Linked DNA regions of Homo sapiens: all the other regions are linked to region 1. Evidence: fine-mapped expression QTL. A gene starts in region 1. Each other region holds a variant in brackets. All regions are shown on one strand. Distances are from middle to middle.

Region 1 (11,139 bases):
CTTGTCTTTAAAATTAGCTGGGCGTGGTGTCACATGCCTGTATTCTCAGCTAGGCAGGAGGCTGAGGCAGGAGAATCCTTTGAACTTGGGAGGCAAAGGCTGCTGTGGGCCAAGACTGCACCACTGCACTCCAGCCTAGGCAACAGAGTGAGACTCTGTCTGGAAAAAATAAAAAAAGAAGAAGAAAAAGAAACAAAAAAAAATCAAGAACAGATTATGAGAAAAATCAGATTGGGGCGTAGCTCCACACATCATTTCACTTAACCAAAAAAAAATCCCAATCCCTGATTTACGGCATGTGTTCCGAATAAAAGACTATGCAGATGTTAATTTAATATTTACAAAGAGTAGTTTGACCTCAAAACTATAGCAGTTTTATTACTGTGAATTTTTTGCACACACCTACAGGTTATATAACCTAAATATTTATTAAGTAGTCAATTCTATCTTCCTATTCTGGTTTACTGATTAAAAAAGCATAACATTGTTTCTTGATAATCCTTTTAAATGTGGAAAGAATGCCATAAAACCCTTTCCCAGAGATTATGAATTCTGGCTTAACTAAATTATTAGAAAGATTATACTTGTTGGAGTTATTAAGTTTCCTTTTGGGGTGAATGTAGGGAAGAAGTATGAAAGTTGAGCAATCTGCAGGGCAAGAGGAAGCAGAGTTACATAAGCCATGCTTGGGACACAGTTTAAATTCAGAGCTTTAGGGAATGCTTTACAGAAAGGGAATAAATTACTCACCTGGCAAAACTTGGTCCAACAGTGTAACTGCAATAAAGAATACATTCTGGGGACAAAGTACTCTAATTTAAAGTATGTTAAATACAAAATTAAGCTTAAAGAACACCTAGCTGGCACATCTCTCTATATATATTTTATGCCACAGAGTTATATTGACAAGTGAGATAAATTACTGCATACCTGGGAGGAGCTGTTGGATAAATAATTTTTATGTGTTGGAATGTTAAATCTTGATTTAAAACCTGCTTGATCCACATTCTTAATCCTTGTCCAGAATCACCTGATGAATCAAAAAATCTAGATTAAAATAAATATTTTAGTAATACAATGCATTTCAAAGCAGTCTAAAACTTTTATGTCACACAGAGGATGGAATAAAGGATTTAAAAAAGCTCCATACATCATAATAACCATATAGAAACTGACTTACTAATATGAATTAACTAACTAGGTCTCAATAACTAGCAATAATTTTGATTATTTTACTCCTGGCTTCACCATTGATTACTCTGAAGATCTTGTTTAAGCTTAAGTTTTAAGTTACCTAATTTGTTTAGTGGGTAGTACAGGAATAAATAAATAAATTGATTTTTCTAAAAAAAATTTTATTTCTGTATTTATATGTGACTTTTAATAGTCATTTCTTATCATATTCTTAATAGTAATAAATTCCTAAAGTGACTGTTAAACTTCTGTAGTTAGAAGAACCTAATTTTCTTGGTTAAAAAAAGTCCAAAATGTGTGTTCAGTGTAATTTTATTTTAACTTGAAAAAATCATAATTTAATTTTGACAACATGTTTACATGACCTAAAAGAAGAATTATCTACTCCAAAGCTGGTAAGTAATAAAAAGCCATATAAATATTAATGTATATGTATTTACAGAAAAAAATGGAAGGAAATATAAGTCCATCTTATGGAGTCCTGAGGAGGAAATTAAGGTCACAACTTTAATTTTTTAATCAATTAACTCATTAAGGTATCAGTTCAAAAACTGCCTATTGAATCCCTGTTAATGTGTCAAGCACTGTGTTCACTGCTAGAGAGGCAATGATGGTGGGGTGAGGGAGGAATAGAGTCCCTATTCTCATGGAGTGTGTAGCATATTGTGAAAAACAGAAATTAGTCAAAAAATCACACAAATAAATGTGAAAGGCAAATGTACCTGCTTCAAAAATGAGACACTTGGTGTTGCAAATATTTATTTTATTCACAACTGACTGGGTTTATGGAGTTCAACAATAAATGCACTAGCCTATAAACTCTGCAAGAGGAAGTTTATGATGTATTTTATCTGAGTTATTTGTTCACATAGTGCCTAGAACAGGACTGACAAAAACTGGGTATCCAAATATAGTTGCTGAATGGTTTGAACTAAAGTCTACAGGATGGTGAGAAGTGCAGGGCAGAAGAAAAAAGTATCCCAGGGCGAGGAAAGGGCAGGTGCCAGGATTCTGGATAAGAGGGAGCAGTATGACATGTAAGAACTGAAAAGCAGAGAATGAAAAGAGCAGTGTCTATAAAATGAGACCAGAGAAACTGTAGGAACGTGACAAATCTGTTCATGAAGAAGTCATGAATATTTCTGACAGAAAGGTTGGCATGATTCTAAAGGATCAATCTGGAAGCTGTGTCAAGACAGAATTGAAAGAGAGCAAAAGTAGATGTACAGAGATCAGTTAGGAAACTACTGTTCATGCTTAGACTACAGCGATGATGTAGATAGAAACAGATACTAGAGAAATTTAGGTGGTAAAATTAATAGAGATTGGCAACGGATTTGTTATAAAGGGTCAACAGTAAAAGGTCTCATGGATGACTAACAGGCTTTTGGCCGGAGTAACTGGGTGAACAATACTAGACACCTGCCTAGACAGGAAACATAAGCAACAGGCATACACAGGTTGAGTGTGAGGTGCCTCTTTGTAATGCATACAAGGTCTTATACCATGGGTTGATTGAGCAACTATGGACAGCTAGAGGGGAGGACAAAATCCAGCCTAGGGTCCTTAAGGAGGATAAGCTAAGAATGAGTTTTACATTATTAAAGACTCCTTTCTCAAAAAGAGAGAGAAGGGAAAACTATGGGGAAGAGACCTTACATGGCCCACAAAAGCTAAAATGCTTACCTGACTTTTTGCAGAAAGTTTGCCAACCCCTGCCCTACACTACCTGGATGCCAGTACCCTCTTGGATATCCCTTCCTATTCTTCTCACTCCAGACACACTAGCCTTACTGCTGTTCCTTGAACATGTCAAGGACCCTACCCTGGAGCCTCCGACTTGGCTTTAAAGCCAAGTCTAAGTCTAGCTGTGAAGTTTCATCTTCTGTCATCTTTGCAGTGAGGCATAACCTGACTACTTTATTTAAAATTGTAACACTGTTCCAACTTCTCATCCATGGAAGAATCCCCTTATCCTGCTTTCCTTGTTTCCATAAAACTTACTACCTTCTACTATAGTATTTATTTACTTCATTAGAACATAAGCTCCATGAGAGCAGTGATTTGTTTTTTTCATTGCTGTATGATCAGAGCACAGAACAGTGCCTTACACATGGAGGCTGTGATATATTTCTTGAATGAATGGATTCATGAATGAATGTCTATCAGGCAGTTAGATGAACTTGTCTAGAGCTCAAAAATAGAATCTATGAATCTCCACAGAAATTCAAAGGTTCTATTTTTACCTATACACCAGTGACACAAATGGGTATCTCTAGGAGACTTCTGTGATTAGCCTAGGGAGAAAAATGTAGAGTGAAAAGACCTTGGACCAAATTTAGAGAAACCCCATCATTAATGGCCAGGTAGAGGAGGATGAGTCTGCAAAAGAAACCAGAAGGAGCAAATCAAGACAGAAAAAGAACCAGGAGAGTTTTTTGAGAAGAAAGCTGAATGCAGATGACAGTTCACGTAAGAGGACGACTGAAAATGTCCATTACATTGAGCGACATAGAGCCTGAGCTTACTGGTGACTTTACCAAGAAGCTACTCAGTCAACTTGCTGAGCCTTACCACACAAGAAGAAAGCCATAAACAAGACACATGGTTTGGGCTTTGTGGACCTACTAGCTTAGTGTGGAATACAGACATTACATTACATAATTACAAGTATGATGACTACCACTGAAAGAAGAACCAGTGTCCTATGGGAGCAAATAAGAGTGAATTAATCTGATCTGAGAGACTGAACAAAACTCATTAACCTATCATTTATTTTTATCATCTTAAAAGAAGGTCCGTCTTTAGTACTTTATTAATAGAAAAGGCTCAAATTAAGTTGGCTACATATAATTTACACTCCCATATGTTCTTCTATGGCTGCTATCTCCTAGAAGAAAATCTCAAGCTTTTAAGGTTTTTTATTTGAAAACACAAAATCTGTCTTTAACAACATTTTTTCAGCCTCGAAGAGTAAGAATGCAGCTGCAAAACAACATCTATCCATTCCCAATGTCCACTTTTTAAAAAGCTAGTACTTTATTCCATAGTAAAAGTGTTAAAACTGGTTAACAGTATGGCAAAACTGAGTGTGATAAAACAGAATTGGTTTGCCCATATTCTAGTTAAGCAGAAACCAAACATCTCCTATAACATAACCACATACATTAAAGTTGAATGTAAAATCACTAGCTGCTAAAGACCTACTGGATGATAAAGACCTACTCCCAACGATAAAGATGATAAAGACCTACTCCCAATAAGGTTTTATTTACTTCAGTGGAGATTTAAATATATAGGAATCACATTATACTCGCATACTTGGCAGAATTCTTTGAATAAATTCTTGGTTCAAAGTACAAAGGAAAAAATACATACATACATGACTCTGAATTTTAGAGACATACCCTTACAGGTTATAAAAATGTAATCTGAAATTCAAAAAAAGGATAATTATTTTAAGCAAAGAGGTCCAGGGGAAAAAAGAACATAGTCTAGGAGTTCTTCCTAAAGATAATGAGAATTGATTATGAGAAAGGGTACAGTGTTGGGGAATTTCTGGGTACTTATAAATGAACACTCTTGGAGCCCTAAATAGTACTACCAGTCTCCTAGTTATTAAGTACCGCTGTCATCTTACACACGTCACCTTCTAAATATATGCCGTCTTTCCCTTTAAACACTATTGGACCTCTTCTTCCCTATCTCCAAAACAATATATCCTAGTTCAAACTTTTTCACCTTACCCCACCAAAGCCCTGAGTTTGAGGTCGGAGAGCTTTGGGTTCTAATCCCAAATCCGCCACTACTCACAGTAACAGCTAAGAGACCTTGGCCAAGCTGCTGAACCTGTCTGGCCTCATTTTCAAAATAAAGAGAATACCTCCCACAATTGCCCTTTTCCAGGTCTCTGCCCAGTACCTTTCCAATTCCCTTCCAATCACCGTCCCATTTAAGCCTACCCGTCTCGGCTCAAAGACCACTTTCTTCGAAAAGTCTGACAAGCTTTTCATCTTCCAAATGCCTTAATAATGCCTAACCACATTTTTTTCTCTTACAATTCACTTGGCAGGAAACCATGCACCGTCTTGTGATCTTCCATGCACTGCTGACTCAAACTAATTGGATTGTTTTTGTTTTTAACTTTAGGTAGGCCCCCTGAGGACACCGGCTGCATCTCATTTCTTTAAAAAACATTTCCTGAGAGCTTACCCTGGGCCAAGCACTGGGGGTGCAAAGGTTGACACAAGGGCCCTTACTCTCATAATCCAGTGGGAAGTTCACAATCCAGTGGGGAAGACAGACAAAAGTGATTACAGATGAGTGTTAAGTAACGATACAGCATTAAGCACACGTTACTAAGGGCAGGTAGTGGAAGATGCCTGTCCCTGGGGGTCCTGCCCCTGTAGTCTATCTTGGAAGTTTAATGACACAGGCGGGAAAGGGAAAGGAAGGAAAGAGAAGCAGCAAAAAGGAAAGTGAGAGAAAGCACTCCAGCCATGGCACAGTGGCTTACAGAAAAGAGATAATCTGTAAACAGTATCTAAGTTAACTGTGAATCTCAATTGTCTACATTAGTATGGGAGCCTGGAAAAAGCAATGGGCAATTACGACTGAAAAATCACTAGTAGCTGATAATGAAAAACACTAAATAATTTCCCTCTAGCAGAAGACTTACCTTACTAACTTGCTCTGTTTAAACTTGGGGCGAGGAATGGGGAGGTGTGTTGTGGGGATGGAGGGCTGGCTGAGCGGCGGGACACAAGGCCCCAAAGCGAGGGTGGTGGACCAGTGACCGCCCGATAGAAAGAGGAAGACTAACGGGGGAGGCTGGGGGCAGGTGGCGCTGCCCGTGCATCTACAGCCGGGGCTGGCGACGGGGGAGCCACCCACTGGGCCCTATTTGGGCCCGGCGACACCTCCACTTGGGCAATACTGGGGTAACCGAGGGGAGGATGTTTCCCGAGCTGTAGAAAACCAGGACGTAAAATTGAAATCCACCTGAGCCATGCAGGAAGATCAGAGAGGCGCTATGCCTCCCTGCCGGCGACACGATACAGCGCTGCAGAACCGACCCCGACGCAGCCGCCATCGCTGATGCCACTGCCAGTCATGCGGTTCCGCCCCTGCGTTGCCGCGCGGGGCCGCGCACGCAAATACGCAGGCACGCGCGGGAGCACGCCCGGGAGCGCGCATGCGCAGCGCTGCTGGCCCGCTCTCTGAGGAGCTTTCAATACTTTGGGGTCAAGTTTGAGGCAGTTGTAACTGTACTGAGTTTAGTTTTGCTAATAATGGTATTCTACGTGTGTCAGCCTCGTGTGGACTTCTGTAATGACTAATGGATATGTTTATATCCTGAGCATTTGCTGTAGGAATTTTAAATGCAATCCCAAAACTCAAGATTACCTTATTTGGAGAAATATTCGTGTTACTATGTTTAAAATTTAATAGAACCATATTTTACCTTTCACTTTGGGACTCGCACAGGATGTTTGCAGCTCTTGATATACAGGGTAAGCGAAGCATATAATAATAAGTTCTCTTCGTGTCTCTTATTTTTAATAAATAGTTTACAAAGCAAATCTAATTTAATGAGATTCTGCTTTATATACCCATTAGAATGGCTCTTATCAAAAAAACAGAAAATAAGTATTAGTAAAGATGTGTAGAAATTAGAAACCTTGTGCATAGCTGATCAGAATGTAAAATGATGTTGCGGCAATAGAAATAATTTGGTGGCTCCTCAACAAGTTAAACATTGACTTAGCATAGGTACTAGCAGTTCCACTTCTAGGTATATACCCAAAAGAGATGAAAGCAGGGACTCAAACAAATACTTGTACTTCAGTGTTCTGTAGCAGCATTATTCACAAGTACCAAAAAGTGGAAACAACTCAAATGTTCATCTACAGATGGAGAGATAAACCAAATGTGCTATGTACATATTGGAATGGAATATTATTCAGCCTGTAAAAAGAATGTGATTCGGATACATGCTACAACATGGATGAACCTTGAAAACATTATGCCGAGTGAAGCCAGACACAAAAGGACAAATAATTGTATGATTCCACTTACATGAGATATCTAGAATTGGCAAATGCATAGGGACAGAAAGTGAAATTAGAGGTTACCAGGGACTAAGGGAAGAGGGAGTTGGGAGGTTGTTGTTTAATGAGTACAAGAGTTTCTGCTTAGATAGTGAAACATTTTTAAAAATGGACAGTGATGATGGTTGTACAACAGTGTTAATAACTGCCAGTGAACTATACACCTAGTAAATTTTATGTGTATTTTACCATAATTTTAAAAATACTAAGAAATGGAATTATTTCCTGTATAAAGTCCAAAACATAGGTATCTTTTAATACTGAAGGCAGTGGCCCCAGCAGGTTGCTCTTGCCTCATGTAAAATTCAACAAAATAACCCAGTAAAAGCTTAAGTACCATTAAACACTGGCCTTCCATTCATTGTAGTCTGCATTACATTTTAGCAATTACAACTTACCTTTTATTTGTTCCAGGTAATCACCCTACTTACAGGTAAGTAAACTGTTTACTATCAACATTAGTTGCCAAAATCAGCTCTAAGCTATCATGGTGTTATATTAATAACAATACCATCAACAAGAATGGTCCTACATGCCATTAGTTAACCAAATCAAAAAGAAATTCTGAGTCATTTCTCCAAAGCCCATAGATCTGCAGCAGAGAGTTGTATAAGTGAAGTCCCTGAGGAGGACAAACTAGGGTAGGCTGAGCTCTGATAGCCAATTCTTAAAAGAAAAACCTCTGTCTTTTGACCTGCCTTCCCCGTATGAGTTCTAGATAACCTTCCCTAGCCAGGTGAGAAGAGGGCAGTGCTACTAGGAAAGACCACTTGGAGATATACAGGGAAGGCTTTAAGTTCTACTCTTAGAACTCCATTTACTACCTGAAAATCTTACTGTACACCACCCCACGCTTTTGAGACAGCAAAAAATCAGAATATAATTATTTAAGAGTAATGATTATTAATAATAATAAGCAACTAATATTCATGGGATTCAGTAGGTGCCAAAAACTGTCATAAATTAATTCCAATAAAACTCAGTACTATTACTATCTGCTTTTGTCAATGAGGCTCAAAGAGGTAAGGAACCTGGCTCAAAGTCATAGTGCCAGTCAATTGTAGAACCTGGATTCACATGCTGGGCTTGACTCCAGAGCATAGGTTCTTAACTATTACCCACATTTACACATGAGTGCACAGAAATGAAGCAAGGGCATGTCGCAACTCTTATTTCAAAAACAAAAGTCTGGAATTTGTATTGTGGCCCTTTAGAGTCTCTATTTATTAGGTGTTCCTGTGCTTCTTTAGTTTTTCCCAAGTCTACTGCTATTAGTTCCTGATTTGTTCTTCCAACTATTCTACCAGTTTAAACAGGTAGATAAGCAGGTGGTAAATACCAGAAGCAACCTTCTGTATTCTGAATTTCACTGAGAACTCCAGCCTTCCCAGATTCATTATTAGAATGAGCCAGATTCTTCCACACTTAACCAAAGTGCTATTTTATTTCCAGTGATTTAAATGCTTAGCTATTGTTGCTATTCCTTTCATCTGTATTTGTTTATAGGACAAGCAAAGGTTTTAGATTACCTATATTTAGAGATCCCATCTGGTAGGCAAACTGTTGAACAAAAATGTTTTGTTCCTTTCATGTTACTGTACTACTTTGAAATGTAATTAAGTTTCAAGATGACTATTTGCTTTTGTGGTGGATCTTTTGCCCTATTGAAGGTGGGGGAATATTATCACTGGAAGATTCCTATTCATACATTCTTTTACTCTTTATATAGCTCCTAATTATTTTTTGTTGCTACTCATTTGCTTTCTGCCAATCTATATGCACCTCCTTTTGGTAACTTCAGTTCTAAACTTAAAAAAGCAAGTAAACAAAATAAAAGAAAAAGAAAAAGTTCTCCTGTTTTGCAGGGTTTCAATATCAATTAGGATCTAACGATATAAATGGCAAAGTCGGAGTTTAGTTTACTGTTCTTCAGTGTGTTGAGAAATGCTTTAGGCCACACTTAGTTTTCAAAACAGAAAAGCAATTGAAAGTTCAGCCATTAAGATTAGTATATTTTGCCTGGGTGCAGTGGCTTACTGTAATCCCAGCACTTTGGGAGGCCAAGGCAGGCGGTTCACTTCAGGCCAGGAGTTTAAGACCAGCCTGGCCAACATGGCGAAACCCCATCTGTACTAAAAATACAAAAAAACTTAGCCGAGCATCATGGCGCATGCCTGTAATCCCAGCTACTCCGGTGGCTGAGACACAATAATTGATTGAACCCCGAGGCAGAGGTTGCAGTGAGCCAAGATCTCACCACTGAACTCCAGCCTGGGTGACAGAGCAAGACTCTGTCTCAAAAAAGAAACAAAAACAATGAACAAGATTAGTATACTTGGTATTTTCAAATGATAACAGTTAAATGAAGTTGCATTTGTCACGCAGACAGTACACAGTTTCCCGTTTGTTGTTTGGCTCATTCTTAAGCATCAAACCATATCCTCTCTATTGGTTAGTTTTCATCTGTTGCATCATTCAGAGAGAGAGAAACACACACACACACACACACACACACACACACACACATATATATATAAACAATATATACACATTGCACAAAATGCTTCAGCTTCAGCTTTAGGTAATTTAACATTTTGTCATAGATAAATAAAATGATTTCTTTTATGCATTCCCCCTGTCCATTCATGAAAGAAAAACTAGAAACAAACTTAAAGGTCCTGAATTCTTACAAAACAGCAAAACTATACTTTTTATAAATGAGATTATAAACTTTAACATAATCATTGCCTCAGTTCTGGGGACCTTAATCTTTTTCAGTCCAGTCTTTCCAGATACAGATATGGGTCATTCCTCTACTTTACCTTACTACTAGATGTGCATGGTCTCATTCTCTTTTTAGAGCAGATGGGTCACGTGGGGCATTGTGAGATGGACTGAGATGGCATTGGCAGTAGGGGTAGGGGAATACATGAGCTCCTCAAACACAGACCAAACGCAGCCTTGGAGAATGGATAGTGATTACTCTGCTGGATTATTAACAGTCAACATGATACACACCAAAGCAGTATGTAGGCCCTAGAGGAGGACAGTGAACTTTCCTCCCTTGGGTGCAGGCTACAGGGTCAGTGTTTATGCTTGGACACCAGAACAATGTTCTTTGCATTGCCATTTGTCTCCTCTTTTCTGGGAAATGGGTCTTCTTCCATTTGGACACCTCTTATGGCCAGTTCTCAAATTCCTAAGTTACCCTCTGGAAACACTTCTTATTCAACTTCCACTCAGTGCTTATATGAGTCTGAGGAATCCCTCCTGCAATCTTCATATTTGTCTCTGTACTCTAGAACCTATTACTTTTTTCTTCTATAACAAATTTTCAGGCTTTTGAAATCCAGGGCAAGAATCAACAGCAACCCCTAATCAGGTTTTGGGCCCTTGAGGGCAGGGAAGTTCAAATCCTACCATGAGATGAGGGGAAGTCATTGCATTGCATACGTCTATTACAAAGAAAAGAAATAAAAGCCAAAAGAGTAATTTCCTTATGAATGCAGTCAGAATATCTACTGTATTTTGCTACATTCATTTAAGAGAAGATTAGATAGGTAGATATAAAAAATGTTGAAGTAATGAAATGATAGGAGTTCCTGTTCCAGCCTCGGGGATGACAAGCTATGTAAATTAGACAGGCCATTTAGTCTCATTGGACACGTTTCTCCAATTGTGAAATAAGGGAGCAGGACTTGATGGAGAAGCCCCAGGTTCTGTCATTCTGAGATCCTGAAAGAATTTAAATATGTGACATGTGCCACTCATTTATGAATATACCTCTGATGTTTAACTCTACTTATAAAATAATGGTTCAAAACTCTTAATTGCA
Region 2 (11,139 bases), 73 kb after region 1:
TCTCAGATGTAATGGTTTTGACAGGGTTCAGAAACCTGTAGTGCATCAGACTAGCAGCAGACCAGCAACCAGTGACCATAACCTTTTTTTGGTGCAAGTTTGGCTTTAAGAAGTGCTTTGGAGCTTCTTCTTGATTCAACCACTGAGCTGATCACTGCTGGTTGTATAAAATCCACTTTTCATCGCACATCACAATCCAACCAAGAAATGGTGCCTTGTTGTTGCATAGAATAAGAGAAGATGACACTTCAATATGACAATTTTTATCATTTTCGTTCAGCTCATGAGGCACCCACTTCTTGAGCTTTTTCACCTTTCCAATTTGCTTCAAATGCTGAACAACCATAGAGTGGTCGATACTGAGTTCTTCAGCAACTTCTTGTGTAGTTGTAAGAGGATCAGCTTTGATGATTGCTTTCTGTTGGTCATTGGCAACTTCCAGTGGCCAGCCACTATGCTTCTCATCTTCAAGGCTGTCATGTCCTTTGCAAAACTTCTTGAACCACCACTTCATTGTACATTTCTTAGCAGCTCCTGGGCCAAATGTGTTGTTGATGTTGCGTGTTGTCTCTGCTGCTTTACGGACCATTTTGAACTTGAATAAGAAAATTGCTCAAATTTGCTTTTTGTCTAACATCATTTCCATGGTCTAAATTAAATATAAAATAAACAGCAAGTAATAACTCATTAACAAAAAAGAAAAGCAAGAAATGCACATTAAAACAACGGATAACATAACCATATTTACTTAAAAATGTATTCCAATATCAAATGGCAAATTTCAACAATGCAAAAACTGCAATTACATTTGCACAAACCTAATAGTTATGTTTCTGATGAGCTTAGACTGTTATACCTATAAGATGTTTTATGTAAGCTTCATGGTAACCACAAAGAAAATATCTATAGAAAATAAACAAAATAATTAACCAGGTAGGGTGACATGAGCCTGTAATCCTAGCTACTCAGGAGGCTGGGGCAGGAGAATCACTTGAACCTGGGAGGCGGAGGTTGCAGTGAGCTGAGACTGAGATGGTGTCACTGCACTCCAGCCTGGGCAACAGAGTGTGACTCTATCTAAAAAAAAGAAAAAAAAAAAAAAAAAGGAAAGAAAGAAAGGAAGGAAAGGAAGGAACGAAGGGAGGGAGGAAAATAGGGAAAGGAATCAAAGGCTATCACTAAAAAATCACCAATGGAACACAAAAGAAGACAGCAAGAGAAGAAAAGAAAAATGAAAGAACTACAGGACACTTAAAAATTTAACAAAATGGCAATAGTGAATCCTTCTGTATTAATAATTACTTTAAATGTAAATAGATTCAGCTGTGTAGTTGAAAGATATAGTAACTGAAGCCAAATGGATTAAAAAAAAAAAAGACCCAACTATATGCAGTCTATAATAGACACACTTTAGATTTAACGACACACATAGGCTTAAAAGGGGAAGGTTGAAAAAAGATATTCCATATAAATGATTAACAAAAGAGATTATCTATTGCCTCTAAGGGTGGCTGCCTTTGAGACTTCATCTACATAATAAGAACCTTCATCTGCACAACCATTCATCTTAACTCAGACACTCCTTTCTATTGTTTTCAGGTCTTTAAATAATGACTCCATCAACCAATTGCCAATCAGAAAACCTCTGAATCCACCTATGACCTGGAAGTCCCTGTTTTGAGTTGTTCCACCTTTCTGAACCAAACCAATGTATACCCTACATGTATTGATTGATGTCTTATGTCTCCATGAAACACATAAAATTAAGCTGTAACCCAATCACGTTGGGCACATGTTTTCAGGACCTATGTCTTATACTTATATAAAACAAAATATACTTTAAGTGGAAAGATCCAAAATTGACACCCTAACATCACAATTAAAAGAACTAGAAAAGCAAGAGCAAACACATTCAAAAGCTAGCAGAAGGCAAGAAATAACTAAAATCAGGGCAGAACCGAAGGAAATAGAGACAAAAAAAACCCTTCAAAAAATTAATGAATCCAGGAGCTGGTTTTTTGAAAGGATCAACAAAATTGATAGACCGCTAGCAAGACTAATAAAGAAAAAAAGAGAGAAGAATCAAATAGACGCAATAAAAAATGATAAAGGGGATATCACCACCGATCCCACAGAAATACAAACTACCATCAGAGAATACTACAAACACCTCTACGCAAATAAACTAGAAAATCTAGAAGAAATGGATAAATTCCTCGACACATACACTCTCCCAAGACTAAATGAGGAAGAAGTTGAATCTCTGAATAGACCAATAACAGGATCTGAAATTGTGGCAATAATCAATAGCTTACCAACGAAAAAGAGTCCAGGACCAGATGGATTCACAGCCGAATTCTATGAGAGGTACAAGGAGGAACTGGTACCATTCCTTCTGAAACTATTCCAATCAATAGAAAAAGAGGGAATCCTCCCTAACTCATTTTATGAGGCCAGCATCATCCTGATACCAAAGCCGGGCAGAGACACAACCAAAAAAGAGAATTTTAGACCAATATCCTTGATGAACATTGTTGCAAAAATCCTTAATAAAATACTGGCAAACCGAATCCAGCAGCACATCAAAAAGCTTATCCACCATGATCAAGTGGGCTTCATCCCTGGGATGCAAGGCTGGTTCAATATATGCAAATCAATAAATGTAATCCAGCATATAAACAGAACCAAAGACAAAAACCACATGATTATCTCAATAGATGCAGACAAGGCCTTTGACAAAATTCAACAACACTTCATGCTAAAAACTCTCAATAAATTAGGTATTGATGGGACGTATCTTGAAATAATAAGGGCTATCTATGAAAAACCCACAGCCAATATCATACTGAATGGACAAAAACTGGAAGCATTCCCTTTCAAAACTGGCACAAGACAGGGATGCCCTCTCTCACCACTCCTATTCAACATAGTGTTGGAAGTTCTGGCCAGGGCAATTAGGCAGGAGAAGGAAATAAAGGGTATTCAATTAGGAAAAGAGGAAGTCAAATTGTCCCTGTTTGCAGATGACATGATTGTATATCTAGAAAACCCCATTGTCTCAGCCCAAAATCTCCTTAAGCTGATAAGCAACTTCAGCAAAGTTTCAGGATACAAAATCAATGTACAAAAATCACAAGCATTCTTATACACCAATAACAGACAAACAGAGAGCCAAATCATGAGTGAACTCCCATTCACAATTGCTTCAAAGAGAATAAAATACTTAGGAATCCAGCTTACAAGGGACATGAAGGACCTCTTCAAGGAGAACTACAAACCACTGCTCAATGAAATAGAAGAGGATACAAACAAATGGAAGAACATTCCATGCTCATGGGTAGGAAGAATCAACATCACGAAAATGGCCATACTGCCCAAGGTAATTTATAGATTCAATGCCATCCCCATCAAGCTACCAATGACTTTCTTCAAAGAATTGGAAAAAACTACTTTAAAGTTCATATGGAACCAAAAAAGAGCCCGCATCACCAAGTCAATCCTAAGCCAAAAGAACAAAGCTGGAGGCATCACGCTACCTGACTTCAAACTATACTACAAGGCTACAGTAACCAAAACAGCATGGTACTGGTACCAAAACAGAGATATAGATCAATGGAACAGAACAGAGCCCTCAGAAATAACGCCGCATATCTACAACTATCTGATCTTTGACAAACCTGAGAAAAACAAGCAATGGGGAAAGGATTCCCTATTTAATAAATGGTGCTGGGAAAACTGGCTAGCCATATGTAGAAAGCTGAAACTGGATCCCTTCCTTACACCTTACACAAAAATTAATTCAAGATGGATTAAAGACTTAAACGTTAGACCTAAAACCATAAAAACCCTAGAAGAAAACCTAGTCATTACCATTCAGGACATAGGCATGGGCAAGGACTTCATGTTTAAAACACCAAAAGCAATGGCAACAAAAGCCAAAATTGACAAATGTGATCTAATTAAACTAAAGAGCTTCTGCACAGCAAAAGAAACTACCATCAGAGTGAACAGGCAACCTACAAAATGGGAGAAAATTTTTGCAACCTACTCATCTGACAAAGGGCTAATATCCAGAATCTACAATGAACTCAAACAAATTTACAAGAAAAAAACAAACAACCCCATCAAAAAGTGGGCGAAGGACATGAACAGACACTTCTCAAAATAAGACATTTATGCAGCCAAAAGACACATGAAAAAATGCTCATCATCACTGGCCATCAGAGAAATGCAAATCAAAACCACAATGAGATACCATCTCACACCAGTTAGAATGGCAATCATTACAAAGTCAGGAAACAACAGGTGCTAGAGAGGATGTGGAGAAATAGGAACACTTTTACACTGTTGGTGGGACTGTAAACTAGTTCAACCATTGTGGAAGTCAGTGTGGCGATTCCTCAGGGATCTAGAACTAGAAATACCATTTGACCCAGCCATCCCATTACTGGGTATATACCCAAAGGACTATAAATCATGCTGCTATAAAGACACATGCACACGTATGTTTATTGCGGCACTACTCACAATAGCAAAGACTTGGAACCAACCCAAATGTCCAACAATGATAGACTGGATTAAGAAAATGTGGCACATATACACCATGGAATACTATGCAGCCGTAAAAAATGATGAGTTCATGTCCTTTGTAGGGACATGGATGAAATTAGAAATCATCATTCTCAGTAAACTATTGCAAGGACAAAAAACCAAACACCGCATATTCTCACTCATAGATGGGAATTGAAAAATGAGAACACATGGACACAGGAAGGGGAACATCACACTCTGGGGACTGTTGTGGGGTGGGGGGAGAGGGTAGGGATAGCATTAGGAGATATACCTAATGCTAAATGACGAGTTAATGGGTGCAGCACACCAGCATGGCACATGTATACATATGTAACTAACCTGCACATTGTGCACATGTACCCTAAAACTTAAAGTATAATAATAATAAAAAATAAAAATAAAAAAATAAAAAATTAAAAAAAA[TA/A]AAAATAAAATAAAATAAATAAAAATAAAAATAAAAAGGATCACAAGAGACTCCAATTAACAGTTATACACCAATAATTTGGATGGTGTTCAAGTTAAATGTATAAGAGTTACAGGAAATAAAAACAACATACAAAAATTATTTGCATTTCTATATAACAACATTAAACTCTCTGAAAAGGAAATGAAGAAAATGATTATATTGATGAAAAAGCCAAACTGTGTAAAATATCTAAAGAGATTTATTCTGAGCCAAATATCAGTGAACAAGGCCCAAGACATAGTCTCAAGAGGTCCTGAAAACATGTGCCCAAGGTGGTTGGGTTACAGGTTAATTGTATATGTTTCATGGAGACATAAGACATCAATCAATACCTGTAGGATATACATTTTTTTTGGTTCAGAAAGGTGGAAGAACTCAAAACAGGGACTTCCAGGTCATAGGCGGATTCAAAGATTTTCTGATTGGCAATTGGTTGAAAGAGTCATTATTTAAAGACCTGGAATCAATAGAAAGGAGTGTCTGGGTTAAGATGAGTGGTTGTGGAGATGAAGGTTCTTATTATGTAGATGAAGTCTCAAAGGCAGCCACCCTTAGAGGCAATAGATGGCAAATATTTTCTAATTCAGTCCTTTTAAGGGTGGTAGATTCTCAACTAATCTCCTCCGGCTCAGAAAGAGACCTGCAGTTCTCTACAAAATGTAAATTTCCCCCACGAGAGAGCTTTGCCAGGCCACTTCAACATATGTCAAATAAGTATATTTTGAGATTAAATACTCAATTTCCTTTAGGGCCTGCTATTTGTCATGTGATGCTCTGCTAGGATCGGATTGAATTTGGTATCATATTGCTACAAATAATCAGGTTGTCAGTGTAAAGATCTCTGTTTTAATGTTAATGCTGGTCATTTGTGCCTGAATTCCAAAGGAAGGAGAGTATAATGAGGCATAACTGAACCCCCTTCCCATCATGGCCTGAACTAGTTTTTCAGATTTTTTTTGGAATCTTCTTGGCCAAGAGAAAGGGTCCATTCAGTCAGTTGGGGGGCTTAAATTTTTACTTTTGGTTTATAATTCTATTTATGATAGCATCAAGAATAATAAAATACTTAGGCATAAACTTAAATGAAGAAGTGAAAGACCTGTACATTGAAAACTACAAAAAAATGCTGAAAGAAATTAAAGAAAACCAAATAAATGGAAAAACACCCCATGTTAAAACCTATCAAATTTTATATATTAATTATGTGCAGCTTTTTGTGCATAACAATTACACCTTAATAAAGCTGTTAAAATAAAGGGAACATTCTGAACAATAGTAGAGGATTAAGAGAGTTGGCTGACTGCAAAGGAGAAGATTCAAGAGTTTCAGAATTCAGTGGAGAAATAAGAACTGGATCAAGGGTCAGCAAAGTCAGTTAAATGAAATAAAGAAAACATATAGAATAAGCTTTGAGATCACAACACCTTTGAGGAGATGAATACAGTAGCTGATGACCAAATGATGTAATTACCCTGGGATGGAGTGATGCTAGTGCCCGTTCACCTCTTTGTTGGCAACCGGAGACACTGTCAGTTGGATTGGATGATCACTATGCTTAAAATGTTTCTAGCATTATTACTGCAACTGCTGTGACTCTAAGGACAGACATGACAACAATTACAAAATGCCTCTTGAATCTTTTCATTTTCCTCCACATTTACCATTTTATTCTACTCCAGGCCACCATCATCTCTTACCTGGAACGTTGCAATAGCCTCCAGACTGTAATCTCTGCTTTTGATCTTCCCTAGTTCTAGGATAATTCACCAAAAGTCAACCAAATGTGGGATGGTTTATTTGCTAACTCTCTTTGAAGTATTTATTTCTTTTTTTATTCTTTTTTTTACCATTTACAGTTATGTTCACCTTGTCTCTGCCTCAGCTTCCTGGTGCAACTGTAGCCAGAAGAGGAGAGAGAAGAGGACATTGGAGTGCACGAGAAGAATATATTATAAAAGAATATTGCTTGATTAAAAAGCATTTTTTACTGGATAATACTTCTTAATTTAGAAAAATACCAAGGAGGGCTTTAAAATTGTATCTACACATTGTGGATCTCTTTCACAGTCTCTGCACTTTCCCCACATTCCCTGTGAATTTTTTGTTTCTTCTTCCTTTTGACTTATTTTTTTTTTTTACAGACAGGGTCTTGCTCTGTCACCCAAGCCAAACTGCAGAAACATGACCATAGCTCACTTTAACCCCCAACTCCTGGACTCAAGTGATCCTCCAGCCTCAGCCTCTGGAGTAGCTGGGACTATAGGCACACACCACCACAACCAGCTAATTAAAAAACAAAATGTAGAAACAGGATCTCACACTGTTGCCCAGGCTGGGCTCCACTCTTGGCCTCAAGCAATCCTCCTGCCTTGGCCTCCCAAAGTGCTGGGATTATAAACATGGGCCACCATGCCCAGCCTCTTCATCCTCTTTAAATAGTATTGTTATCACAAATGCATGTATGCCTAAAGTAGCTGTATATTTAGTTGAGCTTGTTTTACATTTCTACACACATAATATTGTTACTGAAAAAGCAGAGGTTCGGTTTAGGTCCTGTCGCTTGCCACACAGAAAGCCATTCACTGAGATGCCAATTATTGACAAGGAAGAACGCTTTAATTGGATGCTGCCGCTGACGAGATGGGAGCTCAGTCTCAAATCCATCTGCCTGACTGACTAAAACTATGGGTTTATATAGTAGGGAACAAATGCAACAATATGCAAGAAACAAGAACTAGGGAGGGGCAAGCAAGCAATCATAATGAATGAAGGATCTGGCATCTCATTGTCTGGATGTGGTGCTCTGGTGAGCTTCAGTTCTTTGGTACTTTGAGAGGCTTGAAGGTCATTTACTGAGGAAGGAACTCAGATCGAACAGATGTAAGGTTCAAGCTTTAAGACCATAAGAGTCAATTTCTATGTTTACCCAAACAACTATCTATGGGACTATTGGGTTGTTTTCAGCATTATATTGTATGTAGTCTTCTGAGTCTTGATGATTTTTATTGAACATAGGCTTCTGCGGTTTATATATGTTACTGCACACAGTAGAAATTTTTTTCATTTTCACTGTCATACAATATTCAAATATGTGACAGCACCACAATTTTTCATCTATTTCCTGTTAGACTCTGGGTGACTTTCAGTTTTCTGATAATATAAAGAGTACTGGTATACACATTTTACATATCTTGCAGTCATTTGAATAGTTTTTCTAGGATATATACCTAGGAGTGGAATTTCTGAGTTATGGTATATACAATGCTCAACTTTGGAAAATAATGATACACAGTTTACCAATGCAGTTGTACACATTTATGCTTTCAAAAGCAATGTATATAAATTACTCACTCCAACACTAGATGTAGTCAGACTTCTTAATTTTTGCCTATCTCTCAGATATAAAGTTTCTCATTCTTAATATTCATTTCTCTGATTGCAAATGAGAGGAAGCATCTTGTATATCTAGCAATTCCTTATCCATGAAATATATATTTGTGTCAGTTTATCTATTAATTTGTTTGTTTTTATTATTAATTTGTGGGAATTCTTTACAAATACTTAATTTGAACTCTTTGTTAATAATGTATGTTACAAATATTTTCCCTTGGTTTATGGCTGGTTTTTTACAATCTTTCTTTCACTGACATATCTTTTGCTGAACATATGTTCTTAATTTTAATGTAGTTAAGTTTATCATATTCTTTTGATTAGTGATTTTTGTATTTTATGTAAAAAGCCTTCCTTAACCAAAGGTCAGAAAGATATTCTCCTATATTTTCAACTTAATGCTGTTTTTCACATTGAATTTCTTACCTACCTAGATTTTTAAAAAATATTTTCCTTTCTGGATAATGACAATCATACTACCATTTACTGATGAGTCCCTTTCTCTACTGACCTGCAATACGTATTTGTCATATATGAATGTTTCATAAATATTGGGTCTATCTTATATTTAATTTCATTTCATTGGTGAAGTTTTCTTTCTCTGACTTGCTCAGTGTCCTACTTTGTAGTTTTAAAATAATATATCTAAATATCTGCAGGGTAATTTACTTATTTTCTTCTTTTGTTTCAGAATGTCTTGGTTATTCTTGATCCTTTGCTCTTTCACATAAACTTTATTATTAGCTTGTCAAGTTCCACTTGACTCCACTCTAGATTTGGCAAGCATTAATGTCCTTACAGTTTTAAGTCTTCTTATCCCAAAACTCATGTCTGTCTCCAAGTTCTTTTTTTTTTCTTACATTTCTTTAGCAGATTTTTATAATTTTCTGCATATAGGTACTGTCTACATTTCATTAGATTTATTCTCAGGTTTTATATAGTTTTCATTGCTGCTATGAAAATGTCACCTTTTAAAATTATATTTCCTACTGAGGACATATATTGATTTTTGCCTATTGATCTTATAGCTAGCTCTCTTGCTAAACACCCTTATGATTTCTGATTATTTGTCTTTGGATGTATTAGTCCATTTTCATACTGCTATGAAGAAACACCTGAGACTGGGTAATTTATAAAGAAAAAGAGGTTTAATGGACTCAGAGTTCCACATGGCTAAGGAGGCCTCACAGTCATGGAGGAAGGCAAAGGAGGAGAAAGGCAAGTCTTACAAGGCAGCAGGCAAGAGAGTATATGCAGAGGAACTTCTTTTTATAAAACCAATAGATCTCATGAGACTTATTTACTAACATAGAATGGCAGAGGATAACCCAACCCCATGATTCAATTACCTCCCACTGGGTCTCTCCTATGACACCTGGGGATTATGAAAGCTACAATTCAAGATGAGATTTGGTTGGAGACACAGGCAAACTATATCATTACACCCCTTGCCCCTCCCAAATCTCATGTCCTCACAATTCAAAATACAATTATGCCCTTCCAACAGTCCCCCAGAGTCTTAACTCATTTGAGCATTAACTCCAAAGTCCAAGTCCAAAGCCTATAAAATCAAAACAAGTTAGTTACTTCCTGGATACAATGAGGGTACAGGTATTGGGTAAATAGACCTGTTACAAATGGAAGAAATTAGCCAAACCAAAGGGGCAACAGGCTCCATGCAAGTCCAAAATCCATCTGGGCAGTAAAATCTTAAAGCTCCAAAATGATCTCCTTTGACTCCATGTCTCACATCCAGGTCACACTGATGTAAGAGGTGGGGTCCCACAGCCTTGGGAAGCTCCACCCTTGTGGCTTTGCAGGTTATAACCCCACTCCTGGATGGTTTCACGAGCTGGCATTGAGTGTCTGCAGCTTTTCCAGGTGCATGCATGGTGCAAGCTGTTGGTGAATCTACCATTGTGAGGTCTGGAGAATGGTGACCCTCTTCTCACAGCTTCACTAGGCAGTGCACCAGTGGGGACTCGGTGTGGGGACTCCCATCCCACATTTCCCTTCTGCACTGTCCTAGCAGAGCTTCTCCCTGAGGGTTCCTCCTGTGCAACACACCTCTGCCTGGACATCCGGCCATTTCTATACATCCTCTGAAATCTTGGAGGAGGTTCCCAAACCTAAGTTCTTGATTTCTGTGTACCCACAGGGCCAACATGACGTGTAAGCCACCAAGGCTTGGGGTCTGCACCCTCTGAAGCAACAGCCTGAGCTGTACATTGGTCCCCTTAAGGCATGGGTGGGACACAGGGCACCAAGTCTTGAGACTATACAAACCAGCAAGGCCCTGGGCCTGGCCCATGAAACCATATTTTCCTCCTAGGCCTACAGACCTGTGATGGGAGGAGATGCTGTGAAGACCTCTGACATGCCTTAGAGGCATTTTCCCCAGTGCCTTGGCAATTAATAGTTGCTTTTAAGAGCACCAAAGTCACCTCTTGCATGCTTTGCTGCTTAGAAATTTCTTCCACCAGATACCCTAAATCATCCCTCTCAAGTTCAAAATTCTACAGATCTCTAAGACAGGGAGAAAAATGCCACCAGTTTCTTTGCTAAAGCATGAGAAGAATCACATTTGTCCCAGTTCCCAGTAAGTTCCTTATGTCCATCTGAGACTACCTCAGCCTGGAATTCATCGGCCATATCACTATCAGCATTTTGGTCAAAACCATTCAACAAGTCTCTAGGAAGCTTCAAACTTT
Region 3 (11,139 bases), 40 kb after region 1:
ACCAAAAAAATGGCAGTGATTATATCTGAAATATACCCATATGGTCTGTTCCCTAGATCACCAAGCTAATCAAATCAGTGTAGTCAGAAATCTGTTTTCCTTGAACAGCCGTATTCTTGCATGCCCTTGATCAAGCTTTTGCTGCTGAGACTAAGAGCATCACAGAACAGCAGCTGTGGCAATTGCTGTGACACTTAAAATATTTTCCATGCTTTTCTTTTTCTCCCACAATCCCTTCCTTCTTTGCTGTATCCTCCATATATTCCTTTTCTCTGTTTTTTTTTCTTTGTTTCTCTTTTTAATTTTCCTTTTTATTCATTCTCTAATTTTGTAAGAGTTCTTGTGGACCTATTTATGTCCAACTGCTAGGGGCATTCAGTGCCTGGGGTCAAGACCAGGGTGCTGACATTCAAAAGCAGTGCAAATATTCAGAAGACTAACAAGCACTGTTCTCACACATCTCCTAGGAAAAACTTCAAAGTGGCCCTTTTTTTTCAATTTTTTTTATTGTAGTAAAATACACATATAATAGTTACTATCATAACCATTTTAAGTGTACAGTGTAGTGGTATTAAATACATTCCTAATAATTTGCAACCATTACCACCATCCATCTCCATAACTCTTTTCATCTTGTAAAACTGAAACTCTATACCTATTAAGCCAAAGCTTCCCATTTCTGCCTTTCTTTAGCCTCTGGCAATGACTATTATATTTTTTGTCTCTATGATTTTGACTACTGTCAGTATCTCATATAAGTGGGTTCACACAGTACTGGTCTTTTGTAACTGGCTTATTTCACCTAGCATAATGTCCTCAGGGTTCATCTATGTTTTAGCATATGTCAGAATTTCCTTTCTTTTTATAGGCTGAATAGTATTTCATTGTATTCGTATTACCACATTTTGCTTATCCTTTCATTCATGATAAACACTTGCGTTGCTTACACGTTTTAGCTATTGTCGATAATGCTCATATGAACATGGATACATAAATACCACTTCAAGACCCTGCTTTCAGTTTTTTGGATATATACCTAGAAGTGGAATTGCTAGAGCATACAATAATTCTATTTTAAATTGTTTTAGGAAATGCCATACTGTTTTCCACACTTGTTATTCTCTGTTTTTGTAAATAGTAGCTGTCTGTATTAGTAAGGATTTTCCAGAGAAACAACCAATGAGAGAGAGAGAGAGACAGAAATTTGGAGATTTGTCATAGAAATTGGCTCATGTGATTATGGAGGCTGAGAAGTGCCACAATATGCCATCTGAAAGCTGGAGGACCAGGAAAGCAAGTGGTGTAATTTAGTCTGAATCCAAAGGTATAAGCTTCAGAGTCTGAAGTTCCCAGAATCAGGAGTTTCTGTGTGTGAGAGCAGGAAAAGAAGGATGTGCCAACTCAAGGAGAGAGAGAAAATTTACCCATTTGACTACCTTTTTGTTCTATTTGGGCCCTCAATTGATTGGATGATGCCTGCTTACAATGATAACGATGGATCTTCTTTACTCAGTCAAATACTATTAATAATTACTTCCAAAAACATCCTTAATGACGTATCCAGAAGTAATGTTTTACCAGCTACTTGAGCATCTCATAGTCCAGTCAAGTTGACACATACAGTTAACCATCATACCAACCTAATGGGTGTAAAGTGTAATCTTGTTGTGGTTTTGATTTGCATTTCCTTAATGATTACTGATGTTGAGGATTTTTTCATATGCTTATTGGCCATTTGTACATCTTTTTGAAGAAATGTCTATTCAAGTCCTTTACTCATTTTTCAATCAAGTTTTTTTTTGTTGTTGTCGTTGTTTTTTTTTGCTGTTGAGTTTTAGGAATTCTCTATACATTCCAAACATTAATTTTTTATAAGATATTTGATCATAAATATTTTCTTCCATTCTGTGGGTTGCCTTTTTACTTTGTTGATATTGTCTTTTGTTGCACAAATTTTAAAAATTTTCATGAAATCCAATTTGTCCATTTTTTCTTTTGTTGACTGTAACTTTGGTGTCATATCCAAGAAGTCATTGCCTAATTCATTGTTGTAAAGATTTTGCCCTAGGTTTTCCTCTAAAAGTTTTATAGTTTTGAGTCTTACACTTAGAATTTTGATCCATTTTGGGTTAATTTTTGTATGTGGTATTAGATAAGGGCCCAGCTTCCTTCTTTGGCATGTGTTTACCCAGTTTTCTCATAACTATTTGTTGAAGAGACTGTCCTTTTCCCATTAAAAGTTCTTGCCACCCTTGTCAAAAATCATTTGGCCATATATGTGAAGGTTTATTTCTGTGCTCTTTATTCCATTCAATTACATGTCTGTCCTTATGCCAGTACCACACTGTTTTGATTACTGTAGCTTTGTAGTAAGTGTTGAAATCAAAAAGTGTGAATCCTTTAACTCTGTTTTTCTTTTTCAAGATTGTTTTGTCTATTTAGGATCTCTTGAGATTTCATATAAGTTTCAAAATGGATTTTTCTATTTATGCAAAAAATATTATTGGAATGTTGACAGGGATTACATTGAATCAATAAATCACTTTGGGTAGTATTGGCATTTTAATAATACTAAGTCTTTTGATCCATGAATATGGAATGTGTTTTTATTTACTTACATCTTTAATTTCTTTCAGCAATGTTGTGTAGTTTTTATTGTACAAGTCTTTCATCTTTAGTTTCTAAAGTACTTAGAAATTGACTTTTCAGTGCTATTATAATGGAATTTTAAATGTTATTTCCTTTCAGATTGTTCATTATTGGTGTATAGAAATGCAACCAATTTTTGTGTGTTGATATTGTATCCTGCTACTTTGCTGAATTCATTTACTAGCTCTAATAGATTTCTTATGGAATCTTTAGGATTTTCTACATATAAGATCATATAATATGCAAACAGAGATAATAATTTTACTTCTTTCTTTCCAAGTTGGATGTCTTTTGTTCTCTTGTCTTCACTAATTGCTCTAGTTAAATCTTTTAGTACTATGTTGAATAGAAGTAGTGAGAGCGGGCATCCTTGTCTTTTTTTCTGATCTTAGAAGAACAGCTGTAAGTCTTTCATCATTGAATACAATGTTTGCTGTTTGCTTTTTATGTATGACTTTTATTATGGTCAGGTCGTTTCTTTCTATTCCTAGTTTGTTGAGTATTTTTATTGTAAAAAGGTATTCTGCATCAATTGGGATAACGATGTGCTTTTTGTTCATTCTGTTAATGTGGTATATTACATTGATTGATTTTGTATTTGAATCATTCTTGCATTCCCAGATTAAACCTCACTTGGTTATTGTATATAATTCTTCTAATATGTCACTGAATTAAGTGTGCTAGTATCAATGTTCACAAGAAATATTGGCTTGTAATTTTCTTTCCTTGTAGTATCTTTATCTGGCTTTAGTATCAGAGTAAAGCTGGTAAAGCTGGCCTCAGAAAATAAATTAAGATGTTTTCTCTCCTCCTCTTTTTTTCTTTTTCTTTTTCTTTTTTGGAAAAAGGTAAGAACAATTGGTATTAATTCTTCTGTAAATGTTTGTTAGAGTTCACCAGTGAATCCATTAGGTTCAGAGCTTCGCTTTGTTGGGAGATATTTGATTACTAATTCAGTTTCCCTACTAGTTATAGGTCCAAACGGATTTTAAATTTCTTAATAATTTAGTCTTGGTAGATTTTATGTTTTTAGGAATTTGTCAATTTCATCTACTGATCCAATTTGTTGGCATACTATTGTCCATGGTATACTCTCTTGTAACCTTCTTGTTTGTGTAGAATTGGTAGTCATGTTTTCATTTTCATTTGAGTAGCTTCTCTTTTTCTTAGTTCAGCCAACTAAAGTTTTGTCATTTTTGTTAATCTTTCCAAAGAAACTAATATTGGGGGGCTTATAATTTTCTCTATTGTGTTTCTATTCTCTATTTCCTTTATCTCTGCTCTAATTTTTATTTTTTGCCTTCCATCTGGTAGTTTTGTGTTTAGTTTGTTTTTTTTTCTAGTTCCTTCAATTGTAAAGTTAGATTGATGATTTGAGACCTTTCTTGTTTTTTAATGTAACCAGTTATAGCTATATGTTTCCTCTTTAGCACTGTTTTTGCTGCATCCCATAATTTTTGGTATATTTTCATTTTCATTCATCTCCAAATATTTTCTTCATTTTTTGATCCGATTGTTGTTTAAGAGCATGTTGTTTTATTTCCACAAAGTTATGAATTTTCCAGTTTTACTCTGTTACTCATTTCTAACTTTATCCCAGTGTTGTCACAGAAGATACTTTGTATGATATCTATCTTTTAAAATTTACTGAGACTTAATTTGTGGACTAATATATGGTATATCCTGGAAAATATCCCAAGTGCACTTGAGAAAAATATATATATGGCTGTTAGATGTGTTGGTGTATTGTGTTAAGTTCTCTGTTTTCTTACTTTTGTCTGGTTGTTCTATTCATTATTGAAAGTGACGTATTGAAGTGTTCAATTATTATTGAAGAACTGTCTATTTTTCCCTTCAATTATTTCACATTTTCCTTAATATATTTTGATGGCCTGTCATTAAGTGCATAAATGTTTATGTTATTATATAAACTGTTATATCGTCTTGATAATTTGACTCCTTTATCATTGTATTATAACCTTTTTGTCTCTTGTGATCTTTTTGACTTAAAATCTATTTTGTCTGGTATTAGAGTAGCCATACTTGCTCTATGTACTATTTGCATGAAATGTCTTTTTCCATCCTTTCAATTTCAATTTTTGTGTGTCTTTGGATCTAAAGTGAGTCTCTTGTAGACAGCATATAGTTAGATTGTGCATGCTCTTTTTTAATCCATTTTGCCAATCTCCCTTTGATTGAAAAATCTAATCAATTTATATTTAAAGTAATTATTGATGAGAAAGAATTTACTTCTGAATTTTGCTATTTGTTTTCTATGTAACTTTTGTAGCTTTTGTGTCACCCATTTCATGCATTGCTGCCTTCTTCTGTATTTAGTTGACTTTTTGTTTAAACTTCTTTCTCGTTTCCTTTTGTATATATTCTATAGCTATTTTCTTTGTAATTGCCAGGGATGTTATATTTAACATCCTAATGATGTAACACTCTGATTTGAATTTATACCAGTTGACTTCAATAATATACAAAAACTCTACTTCTTTAATAGCTCAATTCTTACCCCATTCAATTGTTGATGTCATGAAATTACATCATTATAAATTGTGTGCTGAAAAATATGAAATAGGAATTTTTCTAAATACATTAGTCTCTTAAATTATGTAGAAAACAAAATGTGGGGTTACACATCAAAGTTACAAAATATTGGGTTATAGAGAAATACTTTTTAAAATGTCTCTTAAATAAAAGTAGAGTTGCAAACCATCATTACAATAATATTATACCAGCTTTTATTATTGCCTGTATATTTACCTTTATTGAGATCTTTATTTCTTCATATGGCTTTGCATTACTGTCTAGTGTCTTTTTTTTTAATTTTTTTATTTTTTTGAGATGGAGTCTTGCTTTGTCACCAGGGTGGAGTACAGTGGTGCGATCTCGGCTCACTGCAACCTCCGCCTCCTGG[G/C]TTCAAGTAATTCTCCCGAGTAGCTGGGACTATAGGTGCATGGCACCATGCCCAGATAATTTTTGTATTTTTAGTAGAGATGGGGTTTCACCATGTTGGCCAGGATGGTCTCGATCTCTTGACCTCATAATCTGCCTGCCTTGGCTTCCCAAAGTGTTGGGATGACAGGTGTGAGCCACTGTGCCTGATCCTGTCTAGTGTCTTTTTATTTCACCCTGTAGGACTCCCTTGAACATTTCCCTTAAACATTTGCAGGGCAGGTCTGTGTTTATCTGGATATTTTAAAACTAGTCCTTTATTTTTGAAGGATAGTGTTGCAAAATACAGGATTCTTGGTTGACAGATTTTTTTTTTCTTTTACTACTTTGAATATATCAGCCTGATGGCTCCTGGCCTCCAAATTTTCTTATGAGAAACCCAATAATGTTATTGAGGTTCCCTTCTATGTGATGAATTGCTTTTCTTTTGGTGCTTTCAAAATTCTCTCTTTGCATTTGTCTTTCTAAAGCTTCATTATATGTCCTGGTGTGGGTCACTTTGAGTTCATCTTACATGGAGTTTGTGGAGGTTGAAGTACCTCCATCCTGGATGCTAATCTGCCATGTTGACTTCTGATGAACTGCAATTCTGAGAATGCCTCTTAGATTTCTACTTTCACATGCTTACTGCAAATCCTGTCCTTAGGTCAAAACAACTTTGATATTATCATAAACGTATACTTACCATAAATGCTGCCTGTCCTTAGACAGATTTTCTGTGGTAAGTAAGTCCTGGGTCTAGGGGATAATGACATGAGGATCCACCATGTCGTTTTGTGGCCTTCTGAGACATGCCTCCTGTTTCTAAGTCCCTAGTAAGTGTTCCAGCCACACTACCCTCCTAGGTGCTCCTTTGACACACCAGGAGCTACTTGGAGCTTGCTGTATTCCTGTCCACTCTTCCACATGGCTCACTCTTTCACATCTTTCAGCTCTTTCCTCAAATATCTTTTTAGTTAGACTTTCCCAAAAACCTTAATTAAAATTGCTACTGAAATCAGTTTTGCAAAAATTACAACAGTGAGGAAATTACGATGGTGAAAGTGATCTAACCTAACCAACTCCATCTTACTTTTAATCTTCAAACTGCCCTTTGTCATTCCTAGGCATGGGCCCAAGTAACTTTGGGAGAAATTTATAGTTTAAATAATAATAGCCCCTCCTCAAACTAAACTGCCTTTGTAAAACTAATGAAAGGCCACCAGGTTAGGAGGATGAGAGGGGCCTGAATTCTGCTAAGATGTAGATGTAGTTAAATAATTACCAGCTGTTATTCCAGAGGTCACAAGATTCGCAACTTCTTCAATTACTCCTATAAATAACATCACTATTGTAGAACCTAAAATTGGCCTTTTAAGATGTTTTTTCAGGCTTCTGCCTTTTTGACAACCAGATGGTTCCATCCAGACTAGTGACTCCTCTGTGGCCCCCACCCACAAGGGGACTCAGTGCACAATGACTCTTTTCCACACCCCTATGATTGCATCTCCAACCAACCAGCAGCACCCATTCCCTATCCTCTTACCCGCCAAATTGTTCTTGAAAAACCCTAACCACTCGATTGTTGGGTCAGCTGATTTGAGTCATAATAAAACTCCAGTCTCCTGTTTAGCAGACTGTATGTGTATTAAACTCTTTCTCTGTGCAATTCCTATCTTGATAAATAGGCTATATCTGGGCAGCAGGCAAGACTTACACATTTGGTGGTTACACTACCCACTCAACACTTCCTATCCTCACCTGCTTAACTTTTTTTGATACTCTTTGTCACCTTCAGCACACTGTATTTTAGACTTAGTTATGATGTTCAATGTCTATCTCTCCCTACGAGAATATAAGCCCTGAGGACAGAGATTTTTGTCTTTGCCTTTTTTTCTCCCTGTTTATATCCCCAGGTCACAAAGCAGTATTTGGCAGCTTCTTGATTTATAATAAATATGTGTTAATGAGTGCCTATATAATTAAACTAATTTGCAAATGCATTGGCATGAAGACAACTGTATATATAGGAATTTTTAAAGAGATGTTTATTAATATTTTGAGGATGTGTTTTTTGAATAATGCTTAAAATAAGTACTTCTTTTGCTAACAAATAGGCATCTAATGAAAAAAGAAATTGTCATTTTATTTTCTGAATTCCAGTCACCTTCTTTCTTCCCTGCCTGGGCCAGCCAGAAGAAAGGGTAGCATTTTGCTAAGTTCTAAAAAATTCTTCATTCTGCTCTATGTCATTTAGTGTTAAATTCAATCTGATTATTGTCTGTATATTATAGTTATATTCTTATATTATGAATGTCTTATAGAAATGCAGTTACTAGGAATTAATGCTGATCATTTCAGAAAAAAATACAAAATTAATGAATAAATACATGTAGACCTGGTACACCCTGTGTAATAAAGCAATTATGCATATCCTTCAACTAAAGTTTGCCTATGTTCACAATAATCACTTCTGCCCATTTGAGAATATATGTGCTTGCACATCTTGAAGCATTTAATGTTATTCACATCAAGTTTTGGCACCTCATAGAGCATAAGCCATGCCTAGGATAGTTAATCATGGGAGCTGACATTCTTCATTTTCTGTACCTTAAAGTTAAAACTTATTTAAGGTAATCTTTTTTTTTCATATTTTTTCACCAAAGTAAAACTTCCAGAGCATGAAATAATGCAGTTAGTGTAACAGATTTTAAAAAAAAAAAAAAAAAACTACAGTAACTTTTTCTTGTGGTTATATAACGGCAAGGTCAAACTAAGGTGCCATCTGTCTAGATTCCTATCTCAAAATTCAAAAGGAATAACTGGGCATTGGGAAGCCTGCCTCACTGACAAAAATCAGTGACCAACACAAGACAGGGAAATGACGAAAATCCTCATCATTGGCCTGTTTTTTTCTGTGCAAATAGGTCATCAGGAGGAACCATGTATGGTGGCTATCTGGATGTTTGTTTCCTAAGAGCCCAGTGGGAGTTTCTAGTGCCTCCCCAAACTTCCTGCCTCGATTTGAAGTGTCTCTACAGTCTGATTCTCTTCATCAGCTATCCAAACTTATTTCCCAGTAATTTCATTCTAAAGCCTCTGTTTCTGTCATAATGATCCTGACTGTCTCCAGCCCTATTGCACTCACAGCTGTTTCTGTGCCTTATTTAAGTTGTTCCCTCTGCTCATATTCACCCTCTGTTCCACCCTGACACAGTTTTAGAAATTTTAAAAACGCATTTAAGATTTACCTCCTCTAAGATACATTTCCTGGAGAAACCAATTCATACAATCACTTTTCTCGTTCTTTAAAAAATTCATTAATTAATTCATTCACACTATACTTGAAATCTACCCATGTGCCAGATCCTGCTGGAAGTAATGAGGACAAAAGTGAATAAGAATTAATAAACTCAGCTAGGCACAGTGGCCCACGCCTGTTTCCCAACAGTTTGAGAGGCCAAGGCAGGTAGATCACTTGAGGCCAGGAGTTAGAGACCAGCCTGGCCCACATGTGAAACTCCGTCTCTGCTAAGAATACAAAAATTAGCCAGGTGTGGTGGTGTGCACCTGTAATCACAGCTACTCGGGAGGCTGAGGCACGAGAATCACTTGAACCCAGAGGAGGAGGTTGCAGTGAGCTGAGAATGCTCCACTGCACTCCAGCCTGGGTGATAGAGCAAGACCTTATCTCAAAAAAAAAAAAAAGATTAATAAACTCACAATTCATGGTGAAAAATGATGGAAAATAACAGAGTGTTGTATAAGTACTCAAGAGAAGTCACTGATTCCTGTCTGCTGCTCTTTATATACTTTACCCAAATTCACCAATTTCAACATTTTGTTACATTTGTTTTTCTTGCTTGCTTTTTCTCCCTACATTTCCTGAACTACTTGTGAATAGATTGCATATATTATTTCCCTTTACTCTTTAATAATCTGTGTATTATTTTCAAAGAACATTTCTCACATAACCACACTCAAATGGTCAAATTCAGAAAATGTACAATTGATACAATATATACTTTTATGCTTTGCTATTTTCCTTTGATATATTATGGAAGTAACTCCCTACTGCTTCAGTGAATTCTTCTTCATTTTCTTTTATAGCTACATAATACTATACTATTGTATTGTGTGCATGTAACATAGTATATTTAACCAATCTCCTATGCCTGGATATTTAGGTAGTTTCCAATATTTTGCAATTACAAATAATGAGGTAATGAATAACCCCTTGCATGTATTTTCATATTGTTCAGGGTAAATCCCAGGAAGTGGAATGGCTGCATGAAAAGATAAATACATACACAGTTTTGTTAAATATTGCCAAATCTGCCCTTCCATAAGAGTTAGGCCATTTTGCCTTCCTTTCAGCAACATATGAAAGAATCTTGCCAGTAGTGTATTTATATGCTTTTGAGGTTTTGCCAATATGATGGATAAGAAAAGTTATCTCAGCGAGCTTTAGTGTACATTTCTACTTCTGTGAGTAGAATAAGCTTTACATGTAGGGACCACTTGGTTAACTATATCTTTATGCTTTTGCTCATTTTCAACAGGATTTTAAAATCTTTTTTCTCAATTTTCAAAGCTTTTTACATATTAGGAATATTAGCATTTTTCTTTCATATTTGTTGCAGTAATTTTTTTCTGTTTTCCATTTATCTTTGAGTTTACTTATGGTAATTTTTTGTTTGTTCAATTTGTTTTGCCATTCAAAAGCTTTTTAATTTTTTTTTATATAGTTAAATTTATCAATCTTTCCTTTTATTGCATCTAGATTTGGGGAGCATAGTTATAAAGTTTGGCTCTATATCAAGGTTAATAAGGAAGAATTCACTCGTGTTTCCTTTTAGTACTTGCATGATTTCATTTATTACATTTAGATTGCTGGTAACATTTGTAGTTTATTCTTGGTAATGGTGCAAGGAATACATCTAGTTTTATCTTTTACTAAATGATTACCTAGTTGTTCCAGCACCATTTATTAAGGAGGTCTTCTTTGTCCCATTGATAACATCTTTTACATAGCATGTATATATATACACACACACACATATACATGTACATATGTATGTGTATGTGTACATATGTATATGTACGTGTGTGTGTGTGTGTGTATATGTTGAAATTGGTGAGTCTGGGTAAAGTATATAGAGCAGCAGGGAGGAATCAGTGACTTCTCGTGAGCACTTATAACACCCTCCGTTATTTTCCATCATTGTTCATCATGGATTGTGAATTTATTAGTTCTTATCCACTTTTCTGTCCTAATTACTTCCAGCATATCTGGCACATGGGAAGATTTTGTTTATAGTGTGAATGAATTTTTTATAGGTGTGTGTGTGTGAGAGAGAATCTAGTTTTAGACCTAATATTCTACTTAACTGGTCTGCTTATTCTTGCATCAATTCCATACTTAATTGCAAAGTTATGCTTATTTAATATAGTAGGTCTTAGCCACATGTGGTTACTGAAATTTAAATTTATTATAATGAAATAAAATTAAAACTTCAGTTGTTTAGTTGCACTAGGTATATTTTAAGT

Direction of the effects. Positions count from the first base shown, and alleles are read on the strand shown. Sizes are in standard deviations (SD) of each study's normalised expression. Not every link is listed here.
As copies of TA replace A in region 2, the expression in monocytes after LPS of the gene that starts at base 6,299 in region 1 goes up (large effect, 0.79 SD a copy in Kim-Hellmuth 2017).

The links. PIP is the estimated chance that this variant, and not a neighbour inherited with it, causes the effect. A credible set is the group of variants that fine-mapping cannot tell apart.
Region 2: its variant is the best candidate, but not a certain one, in a credible set for the expression of LYPLAL1 in monocytes after LPS (Kim-Hellmuth 2017, PIP 0.67).
Region 3: its variant is the best candidate, but not a certain one, in a credible set for the expression of LYPLAL1 in whole blood (TOPMed, PIP 0.79).

What each region holds. Positions count from the first base shown.
Region 1 is chr1:219,169,038-219,180,176 of GRCh38, reverse strand. LYPLAL1 (lysophospholipase like 1) reads right to left here and starts at 6,299. Exons shown (of 5, transcript NM_138794.5): 1 at 6,196-6,299; 2 at 931-1,030. The coding sequence starts at 6,286. LYPLAL1-DT (LYPLAL1 divergent transcript) reads left to right here and starts at 6,389. Exons shown (of 5, transcript NR_038845.1): 1 at 6,389-6,707. RefSeq lists enhancers at 2,325-2,614, 6,009-6,338, 6,419-6,468.
Region 2 is chr1:219,096,510-219,107,648 of GRCh38, reverse strand. The region is part of intron 3 of LYPLAL1-DT (LYPLAL1 divergent transcript); the gene reads left to right. Among named protein-coding and RNA genes, the nearest start is that of LYPLAL1-DT, 72 kb to the left of the region's middle. The variant TA/A (reference allele first, on the strand shown) is at 4,996.
Region 3 is chr1:219,129,428-219,140,566 of GRCh38, reverse strand. All of the region lies in intron 3 of LYPLAL1-DT (LYPLAL1 divergent transcript), which reads left to right. Among named protein-coding and RNA genes, the nearest start is that of LYPLAL1-DT, 39 kb to the left of the region's middle. The variant G/C (reference allele first, on the strand shown) is at 5,573.